Regions from separate parts of the Homo sapiens genome. Here region 1 is linked to region 2. A link means that fine-mapping ties the variant in region 2 to the expression of a gene that starts in the linked region. Tissue or cell type: blood mononuclear cells. Region 2 holds a variant in brackets; the other region holds the start of a gene. All regions are shown on one strand. Distances are between the middles of the regions.

Region 1 (5,233 bases), 6.3 kb after region 2:
TACCATATTCAGTGATGGTTTCCTCCTTTTTTTTTTTTTTAGCAAAAGCTTATCACTAAAATGAGAGAAAAAGAGCACTATATATACCAATTTCTGCTGATTAATCCATGACTAAATGCCATATTTTTGTATGGAGGGCTATAAATAAAGATTTCTATCACACACACGGTGCATGCGTGCACTGTACCTGATGAGGAACTTTTAGAGCCCCTGCCTCTATGACAGTCGCTGGCACAGAATGGAGATGAGGAAAGTGGCTGTTATCATGCTCATGATGCTGTTTCTCATGCTCGTGTCACTCGCCACAGCCACAGACACATGCGGAAGGCCGGCAGGGCCAGTATTATCATTGCTTCTGTTTTATAAATGTGAAAATGAAGTGAAAGATCTTACCAAAGGTCACACGGCAGGTCCATGGCAAACCCTGAACTTGAATCCATGTCTTTATACCACAGACAAAGTCATACATTTCCATTCATCTTCTCTCCAAAAGCAAGGAAGTGAAAGCCAGGCGGGAGGCGGGGGTATGGACTTAATTGTAAGCCCTGTCGAGGGAAAAATTCATGGGCAGGAAGTAAGCTTGTTACAGACCGTGGTCTGTTCTGGGAGCTTCCGCAAACCAGCTCTGGCGAATCTGAAAAGGCCGCCCACTCCTTCGCACCGGGAGCCTGTGAGGTGGTGCGGGCCCAGATGTGACCAGGACACACTGGACGTTGCTCAGCGGTGGCCTCCACACCAGGTCATGAGGCAGACAGAGTTCCTGGGAGTTTGACATCCTGGACCCAACCCGGCCCAACCCACACTGGCTGCATTTTGAAGCCACCAGGCAGCCCCTGGGCCCAGGACGGCCTGGGAAGGGAGGGCTTGATGAACAGGTCCCCACCCTCCTCCCTCCTGTGTCCCCGTTCTGCGGCCGCCTCCTTTGCCAGGGCCCCAGGTGGCGCCGGACTCCCCTTCCTGCCCTAGAGGCCTCCTCTACGGCCCTGTCCCCATGGGGAGCTCCATCCTGTTCACCACAGGAAGCATTTCCCAAAGGGAGCTGCTCCAGCCACCAGGTCTGAGGGATGGTGGGTGGGGCGGGTGGGGAGGGGGCATTTTCAGAAAGAGTTCTGAGGAAAAAAATGACTTCTGTGGGAAATTCCAGGTTGAAGCGTCATGGGTTGAATCGTGCCCCCTCCGAAAGCTTTGTTGAGATTCTAACCCCCAGTGTTACCACTAGAGGGTCGTGACGGCAAGCTGTCCAGGTTCTTGGCTTTTTGAACGAAGAATTGGACAAAACGCCCAGCAAAGCAAAGAAAGAATGAAACAACAAGAGAACGAAAGGAGGGATTTATTGAAAATGAAAGTACACTCCACAGTGTGAGAGTGGACTGAGCAGCAGCTCAAGAGCCCAGATCTGGAATCTTCTAGGGTCCAAATACTCTCTACACGTTTCCCATTGGCCACTTGGTGATCATATTATGTAAATGAAGTGCTGGCCCACAATTGGTTGCTTTCTGCAACCAATCAGAAGCTGAAATGAAGTTACCAAGATCACGCTCCTGTGCAAACATCTGATTGGCTGCAAAAAGCAACCAATCAGAGGCTAAGATGAAGTTGCAAAGTTGCATTTCTATGCAAAGGAAGACTCAGCGGCCCGGCAATCAGTCTGACTGGTTGCGGAAAACCAATTTCCCATCTGTGGTGCAGAAAAGGTGGGGGTTTTGCACAGGGAGTAGCCTCTGGTCCTTTTGTTACTTAGTCCTGGAAAGTTAGGTGTTTCCTTTCAATTCAGTTCTAGGAAGTCGGCTTGAAACGGCCTTAGGTTCCCCGCCTCCAAACCCTATTCTCCTGCCTCACCAGCACCTCAGAAGGTGACCTTCACTGGAAACAGGTTTGCTGAAGATGTGATTAGTTAAAATAAGATGTCCTGCTGCACTAGGGTGTGCCCTTAATCCAGTGTGACTGTGTCCTTAGGAGAGAGACACACAGAGACACATGAGGACAGAAGCAAGCCTGAGGTGCCACGGATGCCACAGACGTCACAGACGCCATGGACTGTCAGCCACCAGCAGCTGGAGGAGCAGGAAGGACCCTCCCTAGGCCTCCAGATGGGGCACGGCCCTGCCGATTCCTGGATCTCAGACTTCCGGCCTCCAGAACTGTGAGAGAATCGATGTCTGTTGCTCAAGCCCCAGCGTGGTGCTTTCTTACAGCAGCCCCAGGACACTGGGACACTGGGACACTCACACACACAACGTCCATAACCATTTTACTTTTCAGAGACTTGAACAAGCTAACCTGCAAGAAGTTCCAAGAAGGAGGAGGCAATCACCCCCTTGTCTCCATTTATTTTACCACAAACCTTTTTCCTCAAAAAAACTCAGTGTGCCATGAAACGTACTTTGAGAAGTGGGGGTCTTTGGCATGCATCTGTGGTACCCCAGGAAGGTGACATAGAAGGAGGGGCCAGGCAGGGACCACAGAGTCTGGGTGCCCCTCCAGAGAGGGTGTCTCACCAAGCCACAGGCCAACACCAGGCCCCGCAGAGACCCCTGCTCGTGCTCAGTGAATGAGTGGGCACCCCGACTAACAGGAATTTCATCCTATTGACAGACAACCGACCCTCTGCCTCTGGACCAGTGTAGGGGTTCACCCCAAAGGGAGGCCCCACCAGACATTTGCTCGCCTCCCTGGCCTCAACTCCCAGGCCTCCCCAGCCCCTTGCCCACCCCAGGCTTCCGTGACACCAAGCTGCCACATGCCTTGCCTTCTCTGCTCTGGGCCTTCTCACACATTGTTCCTGCTGTCTAGAATGACCCCCTACTCTCACTCCAATTCCACCTTTTGTCTGCTGACTGGATCGCCACTCATTCATGAAGGCCAAGTTCAGGGACTATGGACGCCCCTCTCAGGCCACACCTCCCCACCCTCTGCCAGCACCTTCCACAGTGAGGGCCCTGACAGCTCCTCCACCCTGGTGTCCAGGCAGCTTCTCGCAGTGAAGAGAAGATGAACTTCAACATGGCGGTAGCAGTTCACGCTGACCTTCTCCCTTGGCCTTGGGCAACTTGCTTTGCCTCTTCAAATTTCTGTTTTCTCATCGATAAACATTATCTATGAGCCAGATGTTTGTGAAAATAAAATAGCGTATTACTGATAGGTGCTGGACATCTAGTCGGTGTAAATAAAATTGCGTTGTTATACTGTTGGTAACATAGGATTTGTCCGGGGGCAGCTGGACCGGGAGCTCCTTGAGGACAGAGGCGGTGGGTGTGCCGCTCCTCTCTGCAGCCGAGCCCCCAGTCCTCCCAGAGTGAATGTTTGCTGACTGCACGAGGGAGCCATCCCCTTGGAGGCTCAGCAGGGTGTGGGCTGTGTTGTCAGCCCTTCCTCCTCCTGTTCACAGCCTTCCCTTAATGACTCAGGAGCACTCCCGGCAGCATCCCCTCTTACAACACACTGCCTTGCTCCAGGGTTGGCGATGGGATCGTTCCCCCCAGTTCCTAGAGCCTAACAGCACCTAGAGCACTGTGATTCTGCGTCTGATTCTGAGTCGTGGGGACATGAGCATCAGGGGTCTCCCCCAAGCACTCCATTTAACATTCACCCCCACGCTGGCACCATCAGCCGAGCAGATAGCATTTCCTGTCTCAGAACGTTCTTGTCATTTGTTTAAGCAAGTTGAAAACTGCTGCACCAGATCCCACTGAAAGGAAGTACTCAGAAGTCAGGTGGGTTGGGAAGTCGGGGAAGAAGGTCCCTCCCTTTACATGTCGTAATTTTTTCTGTTTTCTAAATTTATTTATACTGGATGTTCTAACATGCTGATAAAAGCCATCTACAAAAACATGCATTCATTAAACAGATATTGGGTACCTTCTATTCACCAAGCTCTGTAATGGGGTAATGGAGTCAAAATTAAAATTAAAAATTCCTACCCTTAATAAATATATTGATTAAGGTACACATTAAATGGCTAGAACAAAAAACGCCCCTACAGACAATGACCCAAACACTATAAGAGTTTGTTTTTCTCTTTTGTAACAGTCCCAAGGTGACTTCCACTCCACAAGGGCATTCCAGGAATCAGCTTCCTTCTATCTTTTTTTTCTTGCTGAGGTATAACTTACATGCAATAGGCACATAAATCTTAAAAGAATAGCTCAATCAATTTTTATGTGTGTATACACCTGTGTAACCACCACCCAAGTCAAAGTACAGAACTTTTCCAGCACTCAGGCTAGGCATGGTGAGTCACGTCTATAATCCCAGCACCTTGGGAGACCCAGGTAAGAGAATCACTTGAGGTCAGGAATTCAAGAATGGCCCGGGAAATCTAGTGAGACCCTGTCCCTATAAAACATAGAAAAAATTAGCTGGGCATGGTGGCTTTCACCTATAGTCCCAGCTACTGTGGAGGCTGAGGCAGGAGAATCACTTGAGCCCACGATGTTGAGGCTGCAGTGAGCTATGATTGTGCTACTGCACTCCAGTCTAGGCTACAGAAGAAGACCTTGTCTCAAAAAAAAAAAAAAAGAAAAGAAAAGAAAAGAAAAAGAATGCTTCCAACATTCAAGTTCCTCCTGTCTTATTGCTTTGTAATACCCTATGGTGTTATCTTCATTCCACAACAAAAACTCACTCATTTTATCACCTCTACATTTCAACCCACAGGAAAGAGAGAGAAAAAGGAGGAAGGCATGTAATTTCCTAATTTAAAAAACAAACGGTGATCTGGAAGTTGCAGAGATTGCTTCTGTCACACTCTATTAGCTAATTCTTAGTCTTATGACTATACGAGCTATAAGCATAGCTGGGGAAAATTGCCTCTAGTTGGGCAACCACATAAGCCAAATAAATTCTTGAGTTTTTATTACAAAGAGGAAGTAGGTGTTATTTCCATTTTATAGATGAAGAATCTGAAGATCGGAGAGATGAAGTGGTTTGCTTTAGCTGAACTGAATTATACACCAAAGTTTGTCTGATCCCAGAGTTAGTTTCCTAACACTTGTCTTTAAATTAACAGAAAGGCCAGGCATGGTGGCTCACACCTGTAATCCCAGCACTTTGGGAGGCCGAGACAGGCAGATCACCTGAAGTCAGGAGTTCAAAACCAGCCTGGCTAACATGGTGAAACCCTGTCTCCACTAAAAATGCAAAATTAGCTGGGCATGGTGGCACGTGCCTGTAATCCCAGCTACTTGGGAGGGTGAGGCAGGAGAATCACTTGAACCCAGCAGGCTGAGGTTGC
Region 2 (5,490 bases):
TATGGGCCCATTATTGAACAAAGTAAGTGTTTGCAGCTCACCAGGCATCTGTCAGTGTGCTTGCTGAAATCAAACATGTAAACCCAGACGCATTCGCCCAGACAAACACCACCTGCCTCTGCATTTTAGAAGATCACTTTTTAATCCCTCCAAGTCAGAAATTTTCTTCCTAGACACCAACTGCTTCTTGAGGAACAGTTTTTGGGAGAAGAGTGGAATCCCACTCTCATCTCAGCCCAGTACTTTGGCAGGTGCTAATTACATCCTGGATCAGAGAGAAACTTCTGCACACTTCAGCATTGGGGGAGGTGGCAATTGCAGCTCAGCAGGCAATGAGTGGATGAGAAATTGCTAAAAAGCCTTTCTGGCCAAACATGGGGGCTGGGGAGGTGTGGGTCATGGGCTGTTTCCCTTGGAAGGAAGGGAGCCATTGCTGTAGCTCCCCACTGTCAGCAAATAGACGGGCTCTCCTCGTGTCTCCAGAGCCCCTAGGACCATCCAGGCCATTGGAGGAAGCCCCCAGACTTGCCAGCTTTCCAACTGTCAATAAGCTACTTCTTTCTTCTCCGTCCACCAGAAGAGTGACATCTGTTGAATGGTCAGAGTGCATGATCCCCAGTTGGCCATTCTGAAAACAGAAGGTCATTTCATAGATTTGTGGTGGTACTGCTGGGCCTGACAGGTTGGGCTGCCTTGACCTATCCCACGTAGTGTGCAGACGCTGAGATTTCTCTGCAGAAGTATTTATGTGTTTGATTCCAGGGTGTTGCCTGGATCTCTAGAGTTGCTGGAGGTGTCGTGCAATGTACAGAATATAGATGATATTACTTTTTAAAATATTTTTGGGAAAAACACTGATTCCAAAATACATCTGGCCCTGAGGAATTGTCAACTTGTACTTGGTGGTATTTGAGACCTGCCTTGACCATCTCACCTAGACTCAGAGGAACACTTCCCAGGCAAACAAGAGCACAGCCTGGGCGTTTGCCTGATGCCCTCCGCATTAGCTGTTCCTCCCATAAAGTTGCTCATGGAGAAGGATAAAGTGAACACATCTGGCTGTACCTCTCATTTGCTGCATCATTTCCCCATTGAGGACTCAGTTTCCCCATCTTCAAATGAGAAGTTCTACTTTCTAACATCTAGTCCTTGTGTGCCGTTGAGTCCCAAAGCACCAACTGTGAAACTCAGTGTTATGGACTGAAGTTTCTGTCCCCCCAGAATTCATATACTGAAGCTCTAACACCTAATACAGCTGTAGTTGGTGATGGGGCCTCTAGGAAGTAATTAAGGTTAAATGAGGTCATACACGTGTGCCCTTATAAGAGACACCAAGGCAGGCACAGTGGCTCATGCCTGTAATCCCAGCACTTTGGGAGGCCAAGGTGGGTGGATCACTTGAGGCTGGAGTTTGAGACCAGTCTGGCCAACATAGTGAAACCCCATCTCTAATAAAAATACAAAAATTAGCTGGGTGTGGTAGTGTGTATCTGTCATCCCAGCTACTCAGGAGGCTGAGGCAGGAGAATCACTTTAACCTGGGAGGTGGAGGTTGCAGTGCACTGAGATTGCACCACTGCACTCCAGCATGGGTAACAGAGTGAGACTCCGTCTCAAAAAAAAAAAAAAAAAAAAAAAAAAAGAGACACCAGAGAGCTCAACCTCTTTCTGTGCACATGCATGGAGGAAAAGCTGTGAGCATGTGGGGCACAGAGAACGAGACCCGAGGATATGGTGCCTGGCATGCTGGGCACTTCTGAATGTGAGGAAATTGGAAGCTTTAGAAGGTGCCTCACAGCCAAGGACTTTCTAATCTTCTCTTGCTTCTTGCCCACCTCTCCCCACCCCTGTCCCAGCATAGAAGGGGCACTCTGGAATTTCGTTATCTGATTTTGGAAATCAGATTAAGCACAGGGAGAAGATTAACCACAGGGAGAAGATTAATCACAGGGAGAAGAGGAGAGACCAGGAGTCTTCACCACTCCCCGAGAGAATTTCATCTACTCTTCTGAGGGCAGCTGGAGACATCACCTGGGAGACTCTATCTGCATAATTAGACAACCTTTGTGCACAGTGAAGTTCCACCCCTCACCTTCCCACCACGTCCTCCAGAGCAGAGGGGAACTTTGTCCCAGGACATTGTTCTTTGGGCTCATGCGTTTACTGAAAGTCATTTACTGCCCCTCGCAATTGCCTACAACCCCATTTCCCTCTCCCTTATGAGGAGGGTATTTAAGCCTCAGGCGCCTGGTGCTCCTTTGAATCTCATATTTTCTGTGGCCTTGTGCTTATGCACATTAGCAACTTTGAATGCCTTTCTTCCTCCTATTAGTCTGCATATTGTCAGTTTGTTCAAACCTTCAGAGGAAAAGTTTGAACTTCCCTACAGGACACAGAAGAATGGCAGCCATCTGCAAGCAAGAAAGAGAGGCCTCACTGGAAACCAAATCATCCAGAACATTGACCTTGAACTTCCAGCCTCCAGAACTGTGAGAAAATACATTTCTGTTGTTTTAAGACACACAGTCTATGGTATTTTGTGATGGCAGTCCAGGCTGACTGATACGCACAGTGTGTTTGCCTTTCTAAGAAAAAAAAAATCCACAAAGTGCTGGTGAGATTTTAATTAAAAACCACAACAAATAAAATCTGAACTTGGATTTTAATTGTAAAGGATTAATCTGTATTCCATGGCTAGAGGAAAATGAAATTCAAGTTTTAGGAAAATCTAAGCAGCTAAACCCTTGAGTTGGACAACAGTTGGACCAGAGTCACTGCCCGATGCCAGGACTGGATGTGAGGGATGGTTTCCCAGCAGCACTAGTGTGAGACCATGGCCGAGAGGGAGACCAGGATCAGACTGAGATACAGAGGACTCCTCCCATCACACTTCAGCTCAGGACCCCAGGATGTTTTCTGTGGACCTTC[C/T]TGAAATTAAGAAGTGGATTTGCCGTTAACACAGAAACAGCAGAAAGAAAAAAGAGGATATACGTATCTCAGTTACAATGGAGGAGAGATTCACTGCAAGCAGCAGAGCCTGGTTTTGTATGCTGCCCTGACGGCTTCAGAAACCCCACTCCTCCCACTGCGTGGTTCAACCACCCACTGATTTTTTCTTGTTCTCAGGGGCCCTGCCTTTTCCTGTCCTTGAATAAATGTTTGCAGGAACAGCTATCCTCCCATGCAAATGCACACCTCTTTTTCTACAGGCAGCCAGAGAGAAAATCTTGAGTTTGGGGTTAGAATAATATGTCATCTGAGCTGATTCTCTAAAGGATTCCATTACAAAAAGTCCCCTAAATGATAATTGCGGACTTTGTCCTGTTATCAACCACCCCCACCACCCCCCAAGCAGCTGGGCTTAAAATTGCCTGCTGACTGATTCCCTGGGGTTTTCTGTGTAACTCTTCCATCTCCAGTAACATTGCACATGTGTACACATGTGTGCATACACACGCATGCACCCTAAACCCACAAATATTTATTGAATGCTTGTGTAAGACAGTGAAGGCCTTGTGGAAAGTGTACAGTGTGATACCTGCCCTCAAGCAATGATGATCCTGTTGGAGAGTGTGTAAATCTATGAAAAAACAATTTGCAAAGCAAGAGTTAAATATTACCAGCCCCAAGGGAAGAGAGGACAGCTTAATCTTTAATAAAGCTGTCACCTCTGACCCACTGGGTTCTCACAACAGCTCCGAGAAATGCTCATGGCAAAGGCTGCAGAGTGATGAGGGAAGGACCGGAGGGGTTAAGCCATGTGGATTCGCAACACAGAAGGAAGATTGGCCTCGCCAAGCCATCAGCAGGAATGAACAACAACCAAGCGCCGTCTCATTTGCAGTCTTGGCAGCTTGTCTGTACCAAATAAACAACTTAACAAAGAGACCTTGATTTTGATAGTTTGAAAATGGGAGCGGGGTTGATTTACCCAGCGTCTGGCTTTTGCAAAAATCATGCCATTTGAGCTTTCGAGCACTCTGTTCCCCCATCTCCTGGGGTAAATTGACTTTTAAATGAACACAGTTAAATACCCAAGTCTCTGTAACCAGGACAAAGGCTAAAAAGTGCACCTCCTTCCTACACAAGCCACATCAATTTCAGAAAGCACTTTCTCTCGGACCATAGTACATAGCCCTTTCCAGCCCCAGCCAGCAGAACAGAGCCCGTAGAGCCAAAGCCTGGGGTCAGCAGGCTCAGGGGCTGAGGAGGTGGGACAGGAGCTTCTGATTTAGAGGAGGGGAATGTTGAGAGAACCATTTCCCCACCTGCTGCTGTCATCTCCTCTCCTTCCCACTTACTCTTGCACACATAAAGGGAAAAGGATTGAGTTCTTAGAGCAGCGGGTTCCAGTCGGCGGCCTGGGGACTCTTGGGGGGCTGTTGGCAGGACTCTCATGTGCAGGATGCTGATCACTCTATCCGATCATCCATCTACCTGCCCACTCCCTTGTCGCCCCACCAGACATCAGATAAGTCCCCTGCCCCAACCCATGCGTGCTGTGCTATGCTGGATGCTGCTGAGAAGACAGACATGAATCTGATAAGGTCCCTGCTGTCAAGGCCACAGAGTTGCCTGTGGAAAACATAAGGCCTGCTCACTGGTCTGAAGCACTGTGCAGTTAGACAGATCCAGGTTCAAATCTTAACTCTACCATACAATAGCTTTGTTTCCTGGGGCCTCAGATTCCTCATTGGCCAACGTCCCAGTCAAGTAAGTGAAACTGAAATGACCCTCCCTGAGCACACAGTAGATACTCAATAAATGTTAATCCCCATTCTCCTTCCCAGGAGAGGATTAAACGATTACCTAAGACTGGCCTACAGGACTGAAAATGGAGATTAAGACAGAGCAAAGCATGACAGAATTGGGAAAGACATTTTCTGCCTCACCTAAGAATTTTATTCTATTATGGAAAGGAAGCTGCTGGCCCACTCCTGCCCAAAGCATTGTAGTGTAGCCTCCCTCTTCTCCCGATGTCATAACCATGTGTTCCTAGCACCTAGACACATGGTGGACATTAGTGGGTATTTCATTAAATGAGGTTCTCCTGGTGTTTCCCAAGTCAAAAGCAGCTCTGTACCCTGCATTGCTGTGTTCCCATCTCAGCAATCCTGTGCATTATTTTGTTTTGGAAAGATCCAAAAACAAGAGAGAAATAAACTTCTATCACGCAGACAACCCAGGGAGGGAGTGATCTGTTATGAGGGAACTCAGTTTCTGCTAGGCCTTGTGTTCAAAGTTATATGCAGTTTCCAGCTTAGTTTTCCTAATGATGATGGAAGAGATGACAACTATTCCAGGTTTACAGAGAAGAAAAATAAGTTCAGAAAGGTGACATGATGACAGACTCCCAGGCCAGTGCTCCTGTTCCACAGCTGTTCCACAGCTGCCTTTTCTGATGGCTGTGAGTTGTGGGGTGAAAGTCCTGGGGAGGGGAGCGGTTCTCTAATTCCAGCTACTCGGGTGGCTGAGGCAGGAGAATCGCTT

What was found. PIP is the estimated chance that this variant, and not a neighbour inherited with it, causes the effect.
Region 1: LINC01954 starts here. The variant in region 2 is fine-mapped to the expression of LINC01954 in blood mononuclear cells (TOPMed, PIP above 0.99). The same link has a PIP of 0.9 or more in whole blood.

What each region holds. Positions count from the first base shown.
Region 1 is chr2:10,876,134-10,881,366 of GRCh38, reverse strand. LINC01954 (long intergenic non-protein coding RNA 1954) reads right to left here and starts at 3,100. Exons shown (of 2, transcript NR_110575.1): 1 at 2,923-3,100.
Region 2 is chr2:10,882,272-10,887,761 of GRCh38, reverse strand. LINC01954 (long intergenic non-protein coding RNA 1954) reads right to left here. Exons shown (of 2, transcript NR_110575.1): 2 at 2,644-2,928. Among named protein-coding and RNA genes, the nearest start is that of LINC01954, 6.8 kb to the right of the region's middle. The variant C/T (reference allele first, on the strand shown) is at 2,929.